Regions from separate parts of the Homo sapiens genome. Here region 2 is linked to region 1. Evidence: fine-mapped expression QTL. Tissue or cell type: whole blood. Region 1 holds a variant in brackets; the other region holds the start of a gene. All regions are shown on one strand. Distances are from middle to middle.

Evidence for each region. PIP is the estimated chance that this variant, and not a neighbour inherited with it, causes the effect.
Region 2: it holds the start of TAF13, and the variant in region 1 is fine-mapped to the expression of TAF13 in whole blood (INTERVAL, PIP above 0.99).

Annotation. Positions count from the first base shown.
Region 1 is chr1:109,041,591-109,049,939 of GRCh38, reverse strand. It overlaps WDR47 (WD repeat domain 47), which reads left to right and starts at 7,838. Exons shown (of 15, transcript NM_001142551.2): 1 at 7,838-8,078. It also overlaps the pseudogene RANP5. RefSeq lists silencers at 3,535-3,814, 7,641-8,190. The variant G/A (reference allele first, on the strand shown) is at 4,032.
Region 2 is chr1:109,072,874-109,080,873 of GRCh38, reverse strand. It overlaps TAF13 (TATA-box binding protein associated factor 13), which reads left to right and starts at 4,871. Exons shown (of 4, transcript NM_005645.4): 1 at 4,871-4,953; 2 at 5,809-5,887. The coding sequence starts at 4,927. TMEM167B-DT (TMEM167B divergent transcript) reads left to right here. Exons shown (of 2, transcript XR_947688.3): 2 at 2,228-2,582. RefSeq lists enhancers at 4,614-4,863, 4,964-5,023, 5,628-6,614.

The DNA of each region.
Region 1 (8,349 bases):
TGGCTTAAGCCTATAATCCCAGCACTTTGAGAGGGAGTGCAGTGACACAATCATGGGTCACTGCAATCCTTGACCTTCCAGACTCAAGCGATCCTCCTGCCTCAGTCTCTCCAGTAGTTGGGATAACGTGTTACCATGGCAGGCTATTTTTTTTATTTTTATTTTTAGTTGAGATGGGGTCCCACTATGTTGCCCAGGCTGGTCTCGAACTCCTGGGCTCAAGGGATCCTCCCACCTTGGCCTCCCAAAGTGCTGGGATTACGGGCATGAGCCACTGTGTCTGGCCCAAAATTTCTTTTTTTTTTGAGATGGAGTCTCGCCCTGTCGCCCAGGCTGGTGTGCAGTGGCGCCATCTCAGCTCACTGCAGGCTCCGCCGCCTCCCAGGTTCACGCCATTCTCCTGCCTCAGCCTCTCGAGTAATTGGGACTACAGGCACCTGCCACCATGCCCAGCTAACTTTTTGTATTTTTAGTAGAGACGGGGTTTCACCACGTTAGCCAGGATGGTCTCAATCTCCTGACCTTGTGATCCACCCGCCTCGGCCTCCCAAAGTGCTGGGATTACAGGCATGAGCCACCGTGCCCGGCCATCTGGCTCAAAATTTCTTAGAACAATTAGCCAGGCAAGGTGGCTCATGCCTGTAATCCCAGCTACTCAAGAAGCTGAGGCTAGAGGATAGTTTGAGCCCAGGAGTTTGAGACTGTGGTGAGCTATAATCATGCCACTATACTCCAGCCTAGGTGACACTTTAGCCTGGGTGAGAAAGTGAGACTCTGTCTCTTAAATAAATAAATAAATACTAAAATAAAATTTTCAGTTAATATAATGTAGAATGAGGCAGGGCACGGCGGCTGATGCCTCTAATCCCAGCACTTTGGAGGGTGAGGCTGGCAGATCACTTGAGGTCAGGAGTTTGAGACCAGCCTGGCCAACACAGTAAGACCCCGTCTCTACTAAAAATACAAAAAATTAGCTGGGTGTGGTGGTGCACGCCTGTAATCCTAGCTACTTGGGAGGCTGAGGCAGGACAATCGCTTGAACCAGGGAGGGAGAGCTCGAAGTGAGGTGAGATTGCACCACTGCACTTCAGCCTAGGTGAGACTCCCTCTCAAAGATAAGAAATCATACTAATGTGGTAGAATAGAAAAAGAAAGTTTTAAGAGTCAGAATGTCTCTGCTACATACTAGCTGTGTGACCTTGGGCAAGTTATTTTCTTTAATCACTCAAATAGGAATAATTAATAGGTGTTTTAAGGGAGATTATGAGGCTTAAATGAGAACATAAGCAAAGCATTTCATTTTGTGTTCAATGAATGCCAAAGCCAATCTAATACTTCACTGGGGTTTTCCTTCCTTCCTTCCTTTCTTTTCTTTCCCTTCCTTCTTTCCTTCCTTCCTTCCTTCTCTCCTTCCTTCCTTCCTTTTCTTTCCCTTCCTTCCCCCCTCCGTCCCTCCCTCCCTTCTTTCCTTTTCTTTCCCTTCCTTCCCTCCTCCCTCCCTCCCTCACTCCCTCCCTCCCTCCCTCCCTTCCTTCCTTCCTTCCTTCTGATGTAACTGTGGCAGTCTTATATTTGCAACTCAAGAAGGAATCAACTGCGTTCCAAAACAGCTAAATATGCAGGTCACCCAAAAAAGGTTTTGTTTGTTTGTTTGTTTGTTTTGAGACAGAGTCTCACTCTGTCTCCCAGTCTGGAGTGCAGTGGTACGATCTCGGCTCACTGCTGCAATCTCTGCCTCCCAGGTTCAAGCAATTCTCCTACCTCAGCCTTCTGAGTAGCTGGTATTACAGGCGCCCACCACCACTCCCAGCTAATTTTTGTATTTTTAGTAGAGATGGGGTCTCATCACGTTGGCCAAGCTGGTCTCGAACTCCTGACCTCAAATGATCCACCCGCCTAAGCCTCCCAAAGTGCTGGGATTACAGGTGTGAGCCATGGCGCCTGGCCATGAAGGTATTATTATTATTATTATTATTATTATTATTGTTATTATTATTGAGACAGAGTCTCTCTGTGTTGCCCAAACTGGAGCGCAGTGGTGCAATCTCGGCTCACTGCAACTTCTGCCTCCCGGGTTCAAGCGATTCTCCTGCCTCAGCATCCTGAGTAGCTGGGATTACAGGCGCCTAACACCACGCCTGGCTAATTTTTGTATTATTAATAGAGATGGGATTTCACCATGTTGGTCAGGCTGGTCTCAAACTCCTGACCTCGTGATCTGCCCACCTCGGCCTCCCAAAGTGTTGGGATTACAGGCATGAGCCACTGCGCCTGGCACAGGTATTTTTTAAACTGCCACATTCACTCCGAAGCCCATTCATCTCCTTCAGCATCCCACAGATGAAGCACATGTTCCGCTTAGCTTGATAACAAGGTGAGGCACACTTTGCACTGCTGACGTCACAGGAAAGCTGTCTATAAAACTATACTTCTGATACTGGGCTCCAGCTTTGTTCTCACAGGTAATCATCCTCATCCAGGAGAGCAGCTGTCTGAGCAAACTCTAACTCATGCTCTTATTGCTCTGTCAAAGCTGGGTCCATGACAACCTCAGGTAGGGGAGTACAGGGTAGCAAACCCCAAGTTAGGGCCTCCAATGAGCTTCCTAGCAAGCCAGAGAAAGGGCTTTTCAAAGTTGTAGTTAGTTTTGGCAGTAATGTCATAGTACTGAAGATTCTTCTTTCGGTGGAAGACAATAGATTTTGCCTTCACTTACCTGTCCTTAATATCCACTTTGTTGCCACACAACATCATGGTGATGATTTCACACATTGGCACCAAATCTCTATGCCAGTTAGGCACATTCTTGTACGTAACTCTTGGTGTTACATCAAACATTATGATGGCACACTGGGCTATGGGTTCGATGTAATAACCATCTCTGTTCACCACATTTCTCCTGGCCGGCTGTATCCCATTTATTGAACTTAATACATCTTCTGTTGGTGTGGAACACTTGGGTGATGAACCTCAACACCCATACCTCTCAAATGTGGCTACATACCTCTCAAATTCACCAGTCAAATGATGTTTCACCAAAGTAGTTTTTCCAGTACCACCGCCACCAACCAATACAAGTTTGAACTAGACCTGGGGCTCTCCCTGGGCAGCCATCATGGTGTTCCTTCCAGAAGTGTCTCCTGCCCGTTGGACTGAGTGGTTCTTCTGTTTTTCAAGCACTCTCCCTAGCAGGTGATCGGTTGTTTGTCAGATTGTCCCTGATTAGTTACTCTTTCTAGAGCTAGTAGAAGATTTAAATATTTAAAGGATGCTGGGCTGGGCACGATGGTTCATGCCTGTAATCCTAGCTCTTCGGGAGGCCAAGGGGAAAGGATCATTTTAGCACCAGCCTGGGCAACAAGGCAAAACCCTGTCTCTACTTAAAAAAAAAAAAAAAAAAAATTAGCCAGGCATGGTGGCTTGCACCTGTAGTCTCAGCTACTGGGCTGGGGAAGCGGAGGTGGAAGGATCGCTTGAGCCCAGGAGTTCTAGGCTGCAGAGAGCCATGACTGCCCTACTACACTCCAGCCTGGGCGACAGAGTGAGACACTGTCACAAAAAACAAACAAACAAACAAACAAAAACCCTCTAGAATTCTATGATTCTGACCCAATAATTAATTATTAACGATTTGTTAATAAATGTAATTAATTCCTAGCTGGGCACGGTGGCTCACATCTGTAATCCCAGCACTTTGGGAGACTGAGGTGGATGGATCACTTGAGGTCAGGAGTTCGAGACCAACCTGGCCAACATGGTTATACCCATTCTCTACTAAAAATACAAAAATTAGTTGGGTGTGGTGGCATGGGCCTGTAATCCCATCTATTCGGGAGGCTGAGAAAGGAGAATTGCTTGAACCCGGGAGGCAGAGGTTGCAGTGAGCTGAGATCGCCCCACTGCACTCCAGCCTGGGCGACAGAGCAATACTGTCTCAAAAAACAAAAAAAAAAAAAAAGAAAGAAAATGTAATTAATTCCTAAAGTTTCAGAATATGGGTCCATGGGGAAAAGGTTCTAACTGATAAAAAT[G/A]TGGGAAATGGGATAAAAAATGAAGTTAAAAAAAAAAGGATACTGGTTCTCAAAACTTCTTGTTTGATCATAAAGATTTAGAAGTGGTTTCTTAGATGAACTATACTAGCAAAATAATTGAGATACTACTTTCAGGAAAAACGTATCTGCCTACTTTTTCAATTTAAACACTCTGTAATGTGTTGTTTGTTTGCTTGTTTTGTTTTCAATATCAAGATCCTGGGTAACATTCAATTATGTTTATATTTATTTGCCTGTCACTTATCATTAAGAGGGTTCATAATGAAGACTTTCTTCCAGGAGTTACTGACTAGGCAATTGAAATTTTGTAGTTCAGCTTTTGTGTGTTGTTTTCTCTGAATGCATAAGTATTTTTCTTAGAAATGTTTCCTCGGCTGGGTGCAGTAGCTCATGCCTGTAATCCCAGCACTTTGGGAGGCCATGGCGGGAGGATCACTTGAGGTCAGGGGTTTGAGACCAGCCTGGCCAACATGGTGAAACTTCGTCTCTACTAAAAATACAAAAATTAGCCGAGTGTGGTGGCACACAAATTAGCTGAGTGTGGTGGCACCTGCCTGTAATCTCAGCTACTCAGGGGGCTGAGGCAGAATTGCTTGAACCCAGGAGGCAGAGGTTGCAGTGAGCTGAGATTGCGCCATGTACTCCAGCCTGGGTGACAGAGTGACTCCGTCTCAAAAAAAAAAGAAAGCCAGGCACAGTGGCTTATGCCTGTAATCCCCAGGACTTTGGGAGGCCAAGGCAGGCAGGCGGATCACGAGGTCGAGACCAGCCTGACCAACATGGTGAAACCCTGTCTCTACTAAAAATACAAAAACTAGCTGGGCATGGTGGTGTATGCTGTAGTCCCAGCTACTCTGGGGGCTGATGCAGGAGAGTCGCTTGAACCCAGGAGGAGGAGGTTCAGAGTGCCAAGATCGCACCACTGCACTCCAGCCTGGGCGACACAGTGAGACCCCATCTCAAAAAAAAAAAAAAAAAAAGGAAAAAAAGAAAAGAAAAGAAAAAAAAGAAATGTGTATCTTCAAGCTCTCGCTTCTTTTATCTTGAACTGGACAAGATTTTGTATTCCCAGAAATATGGTTTAAATTTTGTTTATTTTTAATTTTTATAGTTACATAATAGTTGTAGATATTTCTGGAGTAAATACAATGTGTAATGATCAAATCTGGGTAATTGGGATATCCATCACCTTAGAAATGCATTATTATTATTAAGACACAGGGTCTTACTCAGTCACCCAGGCTGGAGTGCAGTAGTGTGATTATAGCTCATGGTAGCCTCGGACTTTGAGCTCAAACTATCTTCTCACTTCAGCCTCTCAAGTAGCTAGGACTGCAGGTGTGTCTCACCGTGTCTAATTTTTTATTCTTGTTTTTGTAGAGAGGGAGTCTCACTATGTTGCCTAGGCTAGTCTCTAACTCATGGCCTCATGTGAGCCTCTGGCCTAAGCCTCCCAAAGTGCTGGGATTTCAGGCATGAGCCACTGTGCCCACCCATTTATTATTTCTTTTCTTTTTTTTTGAGACGCGGTCTCGCTCTGTCACCAGGCTGGAGTGCAGTGGCCCAATCTCGGCTCACTGCAACCTCCGCCTCCCGGGTTCAAGTGATTCTCCTGCCTCAGACTCCCGAGTAGCTGGGACTACAGGCGCACACCACCACACTCGGCTAATTTTTGTATTTTTAGTAGAGACAGGGTTTCACCATGTTGGCCAGGATGGTCTCGATCTCTTGACCTCTTGACCTCGTGATCTGCCCGCCTCGGCCTCCCAAAGTGCTGAGATTACAGGCATAAGCCACCACGCTTGGCCTGCCATTTACTATTTCTTTGTGTTGGGAACATTCTGAATCTTCTCTTCTAGCTGTTTGGAAATATAGAATAGATTATTGTTAACTATAGTCACCCAATTATGCTATTGAGCACTAGAATTTATTCCTGCTACATAACTGTATTTTTGTACCCATTAACCTCTTTATCCCCCCTTTGCCCTCCACTACACTTTCTAGCCTCTGGTAACCACCATTCTATTCACTACCTCCACGAGATCAATTCTTTTAGTTCCCACATATGTGTGAGAACGTGCAATATTTGTCTTTTTGTGCTTGTCTTGTTTCACTTAACATAATGTCCTCCCGTCCCATCCATGTTGCTGCAAATGACAGGATTTCATTCTTTCTTAATGGGTGAATAAGATTGTATTGTGTGGCCGGGCGCGGTGGCTCACGCCTGTAATCCCAGCACTTTGGGAGGCCGAGGCGGGTGGATCACGAGGTCAGGAGATCAAGACCATCCTGGCTAACACGGTGAAACCCCGTTTCTAATAAAAATACAAAAAAAAAAAAAAAAATTAGCCGGACCTGGTGGCGGGCGCCTGTAGTCCCAGCTACGCGGGAGGCTGAGGCAGGAGAATGGCGTGAACCCGGGAGGCGGAGTTTGCAGTGAGTCGAGATGGCGCCACTGCACTCCAGCCTGGGCGACAGAGCGAGACTCCGTCTCAAAAAAAAAAAAAAAAAAAAAAGATTGCATTGTGTATATGTACCACATTTTCTTTATCCATTTGTCTGTTGATTGACATAGGTTGATTCTATATTTTGGCTATTGTGAATAGTACTGCAATAAGCATGGGAGTGCCAGAAATATTTTTGATGTTTATTCTCTTTACCAGACTGTTACCCCATTTTCCCCTTTTGGGAGGTCCAGCTCACTCTGGACTTTCGCCTCTGTGAGGATGATGTTCTTTTTTCTGTGAGACGGAGTCTCTCGCTCTGTCACCCAGGCCGGAGTGCAGTGGCATGATCTCGGCTCACTGCAACCTCCGTCTCCCAGGTTGAAGCGATTCTCCTGCCTCAGCCTACCAAGTAGCTGTGATTACAGGAGGCTTGCCAGCACACCCGGCTAATTTTTGTATTTTTAGTAGAGACGGGGTTTCACCATGTTGGCCAGGCTGGTCTCAAACTCCTGACCTCAGGTGATCCGCCCGCCTCGGCCTCCTAAAGTGCTGGAATTGCAGGCGTGAGCCACCGCGCCTGGCCGAGAATGATGTTCTTACAGGTTTGTGTAATTGTATTCTTCCTTATGGTTATACTTCCTGGATGCTTAATTAAGCTCGGTTGAACATCACGTATATTTGTGGAATAAGGGGCTTACAACCAACAGGAGTAGACAAAACCTGAACATATTAAATGTTAAGTAACTGAAAAATGCTTTCAAGGCAGATCAGCTTTGCAAAATGAGAAACCAGGAAGGGGACAAACAAACTACTGGAGTTTTCTGGGACGAAGTGGGACCTAGGAAAGCAGCGAAAGAAGGGTAGAAGGCAACATTAATTTCATTAACCTTTATTAATTATCGGGGAGGAGTATGAAGAGTCAATCCTAATGCGCAGTCTTCTCCATTTGCAGGCGACAATCCTGTTCGTGCTATTTTGGGACATGGGGTCACCGGCCAGCTAAGGGTCTACGTCCCTGCCACCAGTCTCACGCTATTGCCGCACCCGTTCTGCTACTCCCCCGGGCCCCTAGCCGGTCCCTCCAAGCCCGACCCCCGCCCGCCCCGCCCAGGCTTTGGTCCGCCCCGCCCAGGCTTTGGTCCGCCCCGCCCCTCCCCGCCCCAGCTTTGGGCCCGCCCCTCCACGCCCCTCCCCGCCCCGCCCCGCCCCGCCGACTCGCCCTTCGGCTCAGGCACCTGCCTGGCCGCCCCGCGCGGCGGGGTCCTGAGGCGCCTCGGGGAAGCGCGGCGATTGGCTGCCGCTCGCGGGTAGAGCTCGGCTCCCCGGCACTTGACAACCGCAGTCTGCAAGAGGCTGAGCTGAGGAGTCGCTGGGCCGGGAGGGGCGGACGTGAGAAGGACGGATTGACGAACTGATGGATTGACGCGCGGGCGGTAGGAGGGAGGACCGACGCCAAACCCAGACCGCCGCCGTCGTGCTCCTGCCGCAGCCCGGAGCCGGCCGCTTCGGGGCCCTGGCCGCCGGCCTCCCAGCCGCGTTCTCCTCCGCCGCTCCTCCGGGCTTGCCCTGGAGCCCTCAGGTGGGTGACTCCGGGAGTCGGAGGCTGGGTCGGTCCGCTGCACACCTCGGGTTGCCATGGTCACCCGTCGCCTCCTGTCACCACCTGACACGGCTCCGACCGGGCGGCCCCGAGGACTGTGTTTGCGGCCCCGGAGAGGGGTCTTTAGTGGGCTTGGGTGCCGACTGGGAGGGGGCTGGGGTCGTGGGTGAGGCCCCAGCATCGCGGGGTGAGGATCTGCGAACTGCTGGGCCCCGGTTCGAGGTCACCGGTCCTGGACCACACCTTTCCC
Region 2 (8,000 bases), 31 kb before region 1:
CCTTCTGTCACTCTGTCTCCTTGATGTACTGTTTCTAAGGCTGTGCCCTTTGCCTCTATTCTCTCAGCCTTTGTTTCCGTGCAATCTCTAGACTATCACTTTGTGATGGTATCTCCCATGTCATTTTCTCTAGTACTAATTTTTCTTTCTTTCTTTCTTTCTTTTTGTGTGTGTGTGTTTTAGTAGAGACAGGGTTTCACCATGTTGCCCAGGCTGGTCTCGAACTCCTGAGCTCAGGGAGTCCACCCACCTTGGCCTCCCAAAGTGCTAGGATTACATGCGTGAGCCACCACACCCGGCTTCTAGTACTAATTTTTCTGTGGATTTCCGGGCCTGTAATTCCTGGCCTGGATTTCCATCAGTTTTAGTACATCTCCAGACTCTCAAACACAGACTAAACTCATTTCCTTCCACTTCCAACTTCTTTCCCCTTTTTCTTTCCTATTTATATTAATAGCATTCCATTCTTCTGTCAATAGCTTTCACATTCATTGTCACAAAGTCCTGTAAATTGTCTCGTAAAGTTTGTGTTAAATCAGTTCCTTCTTCCTCTTTGCCTTAATTCAGATTATAATCATCTCTCATCCTAGTTTCCCCGCAAAAGTGATCTTTTTAAAAACTGTAAAGTCATGTGACACATCTGTTTAAAGACTTCCCAAGAACTCTGTAGTTTGAAGTTCAGTCTCTGAAGAGAACATTTAAGGCCTTTCACACGCAAATTCCAGCCTCGTTTCCTGCATCCCCACCCAAAAAACTTGGCTCTGGCAACCCACAGAGAACATCTTGTAGAAGCACACCATGACTTTTTACTCTGTGTTTTCCTTCTGCTCTGCTTATCACACTGCAATTTTTTTTTTTTTTGAGACGGAGGCTTGCTCTGTTGCCCAGGCTGGAGTACAGCGGCGCGATCTCGGCTCACTGCAAGCTCCGCCTCCCGGGTTCATGCCATTCTCCTGCCTCAGCCTCCCAAGTAGGTGGAACTACAGGCGCCCGACACCACGCCCGGCTAATTTTTTGTATTTTTTTTAGTAGAGACAGGGTTTCACTGTGTTAGCCAGGATGGTCTCAATCTCCTGACCTCGTGATCCGCCCGCCTCGGCCTCCCAAAGTGCAGGGATTATAGGCGTGAGCCACCACGCCTGGACTGACACTGCAATTTTTTTTCCCCCACTTTGTGTTTTGGATCTCAGGTTCACAGGATTGAATTATTCACATGCCGCAGCTCATGGCATAGTATTACAATTGGCCCTTCCAAAGTCCTTCACTTTTTATTTATCAATTTATTCCTTTTATCCTTATTCCCATTTCTCCTACACTGCAACTTTCTAGTGTGTTTAATGTTTACGCTTTTTTATATTTTCCTTTAAAATAAGTAGTATTTTTAATTTCTATAAATGGTATTATATTATAGATTTTATTGTTTCTTTTTTAACTTAGCACTGTTTTCAAGTTCTGTCCATGTTGCTAAATCTATTGCTTCTGATTGCTGCATTGTACTCCGTGCTGTGCATCCAGCATATTTTACCTATCTACTCCACTGATAACAGACACTATGAATGTTTTATGCCTGACCTCCTGGACACTGGATCACTACCTAAAAGCAGTTCTCAAACCTATCAGGCTCAACAATCTCCTTTAAATATTAATAACAAATACAGTGTCTCCATTATTGTGTAGTGAAATTCAAAAATAATATAATTTACTGTGGTAGGTGACCTCTCAGAAAGCCCCCAGTGATCTCCCCAGCAATATTCTTGCCCTTATGTAATCCCCTCTCCTTGAACTTGGGCTGCACTTTTTTTTTTTTTTTCTGAGATGGAGTCTTGCTTTGTCGGCCAGGCTGGAGTGCAGTGGCACCATCTCAGCTCACTGCAACCTCCGCCTCCCGGGTTCAAGCAATTCTCCTGTCTCAGCCTCCTGAGTAGCTAGGATTACAGGTGTGCATCACCACACCCGGCTAATTTTTGTATTTTTAGTAGAGACAGGGTTTCACCATGTTGGCCAGGCTGGTCTCAAACTCCTGACCTCCTGATCCGCCCACCTCGGCCTCCCAAAGTGCTGGGATTACAGGTGTGAGCCACTGCGCCCAGCCCTAGCTGCACTTTTTTACTTACTTCTAGTGAATAGAATAGGGCAGAAATTATAGGATGTCACTTCCAAAATTAGGTAACAAAAAACCTGTGATTTCTGTCTTTTGGGTTCTCCCACTTGTGTCCTCTGGAGGAAGGCAACTGGCACATTGTGAGCTGCCCTATGGAGTGGATTACATGGCAAGGAACTGAGGGAGACCTCTGGGCAACATCCATTAAAGAACTGAGGCCCTTAGTCCAACAACCTGGAGGAAGTGAAACCTCCAGCAACCTGTGAGTGACTCTGGCAAATTCTCCTCCATCAACACTTGAGGTATGACTGCAGCCCCAGCCAACATCCCGACTGCAACAGGAGGGACCTTGAGCCACAGGCACCCAGTTAAATTGCACCCACATTGCTGACCCACAGAAACTGTGTGATATTTGTTTTAAGCCACTAAGTTTTGGGGTAATTTGTTACAGCAATAAATAACTAATATATCTACCTACTCACATAATTTTGAAAATAACATAATATCCTAACAGGATCCAGTGATCCAGTGGCCAGGAGGTCAGGCATAAAGGTAATATAAAAGTAAAGTAAAAATAGTAACATTTGTTTCAATATATAAATACTCAGGTATGATGGCACTAGGGGGGGATAATGAAGATTTCAGATGCTTCTACCTATATGTAGAATTGCTTTGAATGCAGACTGATTTGGGTGAGTATTGTCGACCTAAAAGGAAGAAGCTGAGGCAAAATTAATATAAATAGAGAGTTTATTTGGGCCAAACTTGAGGATTACAACTCAGCAGCATAAAGTTGCCTAGAATATACACTCTAAGATTAGCAGCAGGTACAAGTGGATTTTTAAAGGAAAAGAATGAGGACAGGGAGTGGGCTGATACAAAGTTGTCTTTAAGGAGTTCTCATTGGTTCACAAAAATAACATTGATTAGTAATTGGCTAAACATTATCAAGCTATAGGGTGTGCGATATGGTGTCTGATGGGGCATAATTAGGCTAATTTATAACTAATACTTGTGGCAATAGCAAGCGGTTTTAAGACATAAATACATAGCTCAAAAGGGGGCAAGCAGGATGTGATTGCCTCTCATTTTAATGCCTCTTTGGGCCTAATAATTTAACTCACATTCCTCAAATCAAAGTTATTTTTTCATTATTCACTATTCAAATTATTACAAGTGATGTTGCTTTTGGTGACGTTATTTCTTGAAATGGTACACAGCTCTTAATGAATTCCAGACCAAACAAAATACAATTACTATTCAATTTTGGGGTAATAACATTCCTAGAAACTTCAACGTACATTAAAAGTGTGGGAAAATGCTTTGTGTTTATTTTTTTAATTTTTATTTTTTGAGGTGGAGTCCCGCTCTGTCACCAGGCTGGAGTGCAGTGGCACAATCCCGGCTCACTGCAACCTCTGCCTCCCGGGTTCAAGCGATTCTCCTGCCTCAGCCTCCCGAGTAGCTGGGATTACAGGCGTGCGCCACTACGCCCAGCTAATTTTTGTACTTTTAATAGAGACGGGGTTTCATCATGTTGGCCAGGATGGTCTTGATCTCCTGACTTTGTGATCCGCCCACCTCGGCCTCCCAAAGTGCTGGGATTACAGGCGTGAGCCACTGCGCCCGGCCGCTTTGTGTTTATTAACAAAGATAGGTTCAACTCTCAGATAATTAGTTTTCACTCACCGAATGTTCAGCAGGACATTCAGAAATCGTGTGTATTACGGGATTTTCTTTATGTAGCATCATCTGTTACACTGTAGGGACATTTATATTATATCCCTAGCTCTGGCCTTCCGATGCCTGTGGTTTTGCCAGCCATTGTTCTGACCAAAAGCCTTCCCCGGTGGACACGGTGGCTCACACTTGTAATCCCAGCACTTTGGGAGGCAGAGCGGGGCAGATCGCTTGAGGCCATGAGTTCCAGACCAGCCTGGGCAATGTGGGGAAACCCCATCTCTACTAAAAATACAAAAATTAGCTGGGCATTGGTGGTGTGCGCCTGTAATCCCAGCTACTTGGAGGCTGAGGTGGGAGGATGGCTTGAGCCCAGCAGGTCTAGGCTGCAGTGAACCCTGATTGCGCCACTTCACTCCATCCCGGGGGACAGTGAGGTTGTGTCTCAAAAAAACAAAAATAAGGCCGGGCATGGTGGCGCACGCCTGTAATCCCAGCTACTCGGGAGGCTGAGGAAGGAGAATCACTTGAGCCCGGGAGGCAGAGGTTGCAGTGGGCCGGGATCGCGCCACTGCACACTTCAGCCTGGGCGACAGAGTGAGACTTCGTCTCAAAAAAAAAAAAAAAAAAAATCAAAAAACCTTCACAAAATTTTAAATGCTTAGTCTCGGGACACCATCTCTTGGAAATTTGTGATGAAGCACAGTATCCCCAATAATTAACACAGTGCTTAGAAACAGTGGAACTACAAATCTTTAAAATGATTTAAAAGCATATTTGTCTGATAAAGGACTGCTGGCTTGCCCTCCTATGATCCATAGCTTCGCAGTCCCCAAACAAGAAGCTGTGATTCAATACGCAGTAGCAAATTCAGGGTGACAACGAGATACTCGCGACCTAGCCCGTGATTTCCTTTTCTTTGTTAGTTTTCAATTCCTTCGGGATTACAGGGAGGCGCTCCGGCCTCCTCCCTTAGAGACTGTCGCATTTCCGCCGCTAGGCCGGAAAGCACCACCGTCCTCCCGCAGGCCGCAGAGGGCTAGGCCCAGCTACGGCCCCGCGCGTCACCGGAAGTGAGGCGGCGGAAGTAGTGTAACCAGCTGGGAGCCAGCCGGCAGGACGCTGTGAGTTGGCGTGCTAGTGGGATGGCAGATGAGGAAGAAGACCCCACGGTGAGTGACCGTCTCTGTCCAAAACCTGTCTTTTCTTCACTCCTTCGGGCTCAGTAGCGGAGGCAGAGTTCAGGATCGGGTCTGCTTGCCTTAGTGAATTCAGCGGACAGAGTTCGGGGACTTCACGCCCTAAGGATTGATCATTTTAGAAAGTGGGGAAGGACATGAAGGAAGAGTAGGTTTTGTGACCCCTTTCCCCTTGATTTTGGTCTGTATTTGCCAGACACTGAAACACGTACAGAATCATCAGAGATCAAAACTAACATCTATTAGCGCGCACTATGAGCCAACAGTTCAATTGTTAACAAAACTGTACTTACTGTGAAGTAATGGGAAAAGAATGCATTGAAAGTCAGACAGCCTGGATTTCAAAATTTCCATTCTCTCTGAGCAAGTTATTTAACTTTGAACATCAGTTTTCTTTTTATAAAATAGGGTTACGGGCTTACTTAAGGAACGTTTTTAGCACTGTATAAGCAAATGCATAGGAAATATTAGTTTTGCTTACTACAAAGTCTACAAAGGTAGACTTTGATTCAGTATCAACTGTTTAACAGTAACAGTAGTAATAGGCCACCTTAGTTGTTTAAAAATAAAACTTATGGTCATTGGAACTCTTACAAGTAGAAGCAGTAGGATTATTAGTTAGGAACATTGTAGAAGCCATTTTTGCATGAGTTGGAAGTTGGACTAGATACATAGGCTCCTTCAATGCTAAGGTTTCGTGGTTTTTTTTTTTGCTGCTTCCTTTGGCTTTCTGGCCTATCTGTTGAAAAGGAAAAAAAAATGTCATTATTAAAATATCAAATGCAAGGCAATTATTTGACATTTCTATATATACATTTTAACTTCTAGTTTGAGGAAGAAAATGAAGAAATTGGAGGAGGTGCAGAAGGTGGACAGGGTAAAAGAAAGAGACTTTTTTCTAAAGAATGTAAGTAGTATTTGACAATGATTTTGTTATAGATGATGAAAACTTTTGGACATGTCCTTTCAAAGTAGCTTTATTGCTTTGAATGTTTCCCTGTAGGGATAATATTCTCAGACTAGCCTATCAAATTCTGTTTAACTTTTGAATCAGATAGTACCAATCCTAACCCCAATTGTGTGTGTGTGTATAAATTGCTTTTTTTTTTTTTTTGAGACGGAGTCTCGCTCTGTCGCCCAGGCTGGAGTGCAGTGGCGCAATCTCTGCTCACTGCAAGCTCCGCCTCCCGGGTTCATGCCATTCTCCTGCCTCAGCCTCCTGAGTAGCTGGGACTACTGGCGCCGGCCACCACGCCCACCTAATTTTTTTTGTGTGTTTTTATTTTGCTTTATTTTATTTTTTTAATTTTTTTAGTATTTATTGATCATTCTTGGGTGTTTCTCAGAGAGGGGTATTTGGCGGGGTCATAGGACAATAGTGGAGAGAAGGTCAGCAGATAAACATGTGAACAAGGGTCTCTGGTTTTCCTAGGCAGAGGACCCTGCGGCCTTCCTCAGTGTTTTGTGTCCCTGGGTACTTGAGATTAGGGAGTGGTGATGACTCTTAACGAGCATGCTGCCTTCAAGCATCTGTTTAACAAAGCACATCTTGCACCGCCCTTAATCCATTTAACCCTGAGGGGACACAGCACATGTTTCAGAGAGCACGGGGTTGGGGGTAAGGTTATAGATTAATAGCATCCCAAGGCAGAAGAATTTTTCTTAGTACAGAACAAAATGGAGTCTCCTATGTCTACTTCTTTCTACACAGACACAGTAACAATCTGATCTCTCTTTCTTTTCCCCACATTTCCCCGTTTTCTATTCGACAAAACCGCCATCGTCATCATGGCCCGTTCTCAATGAACTGTTGGGTACACCTCCCAGACAGGGTGGCGGCAGGGCAGAGGGGCTCCTTACTTCCCAGATGCGGGCGGCCTGGCGGAGGCGCTCCTCAGTTCCCAGACGGGGTCGTGGCCGGGCAGAGGCGCTCCTCACCTCCCAGACGGGGTGGCGGCCGGGCAGCGGTGCTCCTCACCTCCCAGACGGAGTAGCGGCCGAGCAGAGGCGCTCCTCACATCCCAGACGGGGCGGCCGGGCAGAGGTGCTTCCCCACATCCCAGGGGATGGGCAGCCAGGCAGAGACGCTCCTCAATTCCTAGACGGGGTGGCAGCCGGGCAGAGGCTGCAATCTCAGCACTTTGGGAGGCCAAGGCAGGCAGCTGGGAGGTGGAGGTTGTAGCGAGCCGAGATCACGCCACTGCACTCCAGCCTGGGCAGCATTGAGCACTGAGTGAGCGAGACTCCGTCTGGAATCCCGGCACCTCGGGAGGCCGAGGCGGGCAGATCACTCGAGGTCAGGAGCGGAGACCAGCCCGGCCAACACGGCGAAACCCCGTCTCCACCAAAAAATACAAAAACCAGTCAGGCGTGGCGGCGCACGCCTGTAGTCAGGCAGGGAGGCTGCAACGATCCCAGATCGCTGCAGTACAGTCCAGCCTCGGCAACAGAGGGAGACGGTGGAAAGCGGGAGACGCAGACGAGGGGGAGGGGGAGGGAGAGCTTTTTTTGTATTTTTTGTAGAGACGGGGTTTCACTGTGTTAGCCAGGATGATCTCGATCTCCTGACCTTGTGATCCGCCTGCCTCGGCCTCCCAAAGTGCTGGGATTACAGGCGTGAGCCACTGCACCCGGCCTATAAATTGCTTTTTAAGTGAGCAAATGTAATTAGTGTTTTAATTTAGGGCAGAAGAACATACCTCCATTAGTTTTCCTCTTGCCTTTACAGCAGTAGAGAGGCTTCTTTGACTGTAAGCCACAGGTAATAATGGATCCTGCAACAGGTGTTGAGGGAGAGTAGCAAGTGAGTTGGGGCTTGGGCTTTGGACTAAGGCCCTGAACAAAGTAAGAAGGTGGTGAACAGCTGGGTGCAGTGGCTCACGTCTGTAATCCCAGCACTTTGGGAGACTGAGGCGGGTGGATCACTGGAGGTCAGGAGTTCGAGACCAGCCTGGCCAACATGATGAAACCCCGTCTCTACTAAAAATACAAAAATTAACCAGACGTGCTCGCTTGAACCC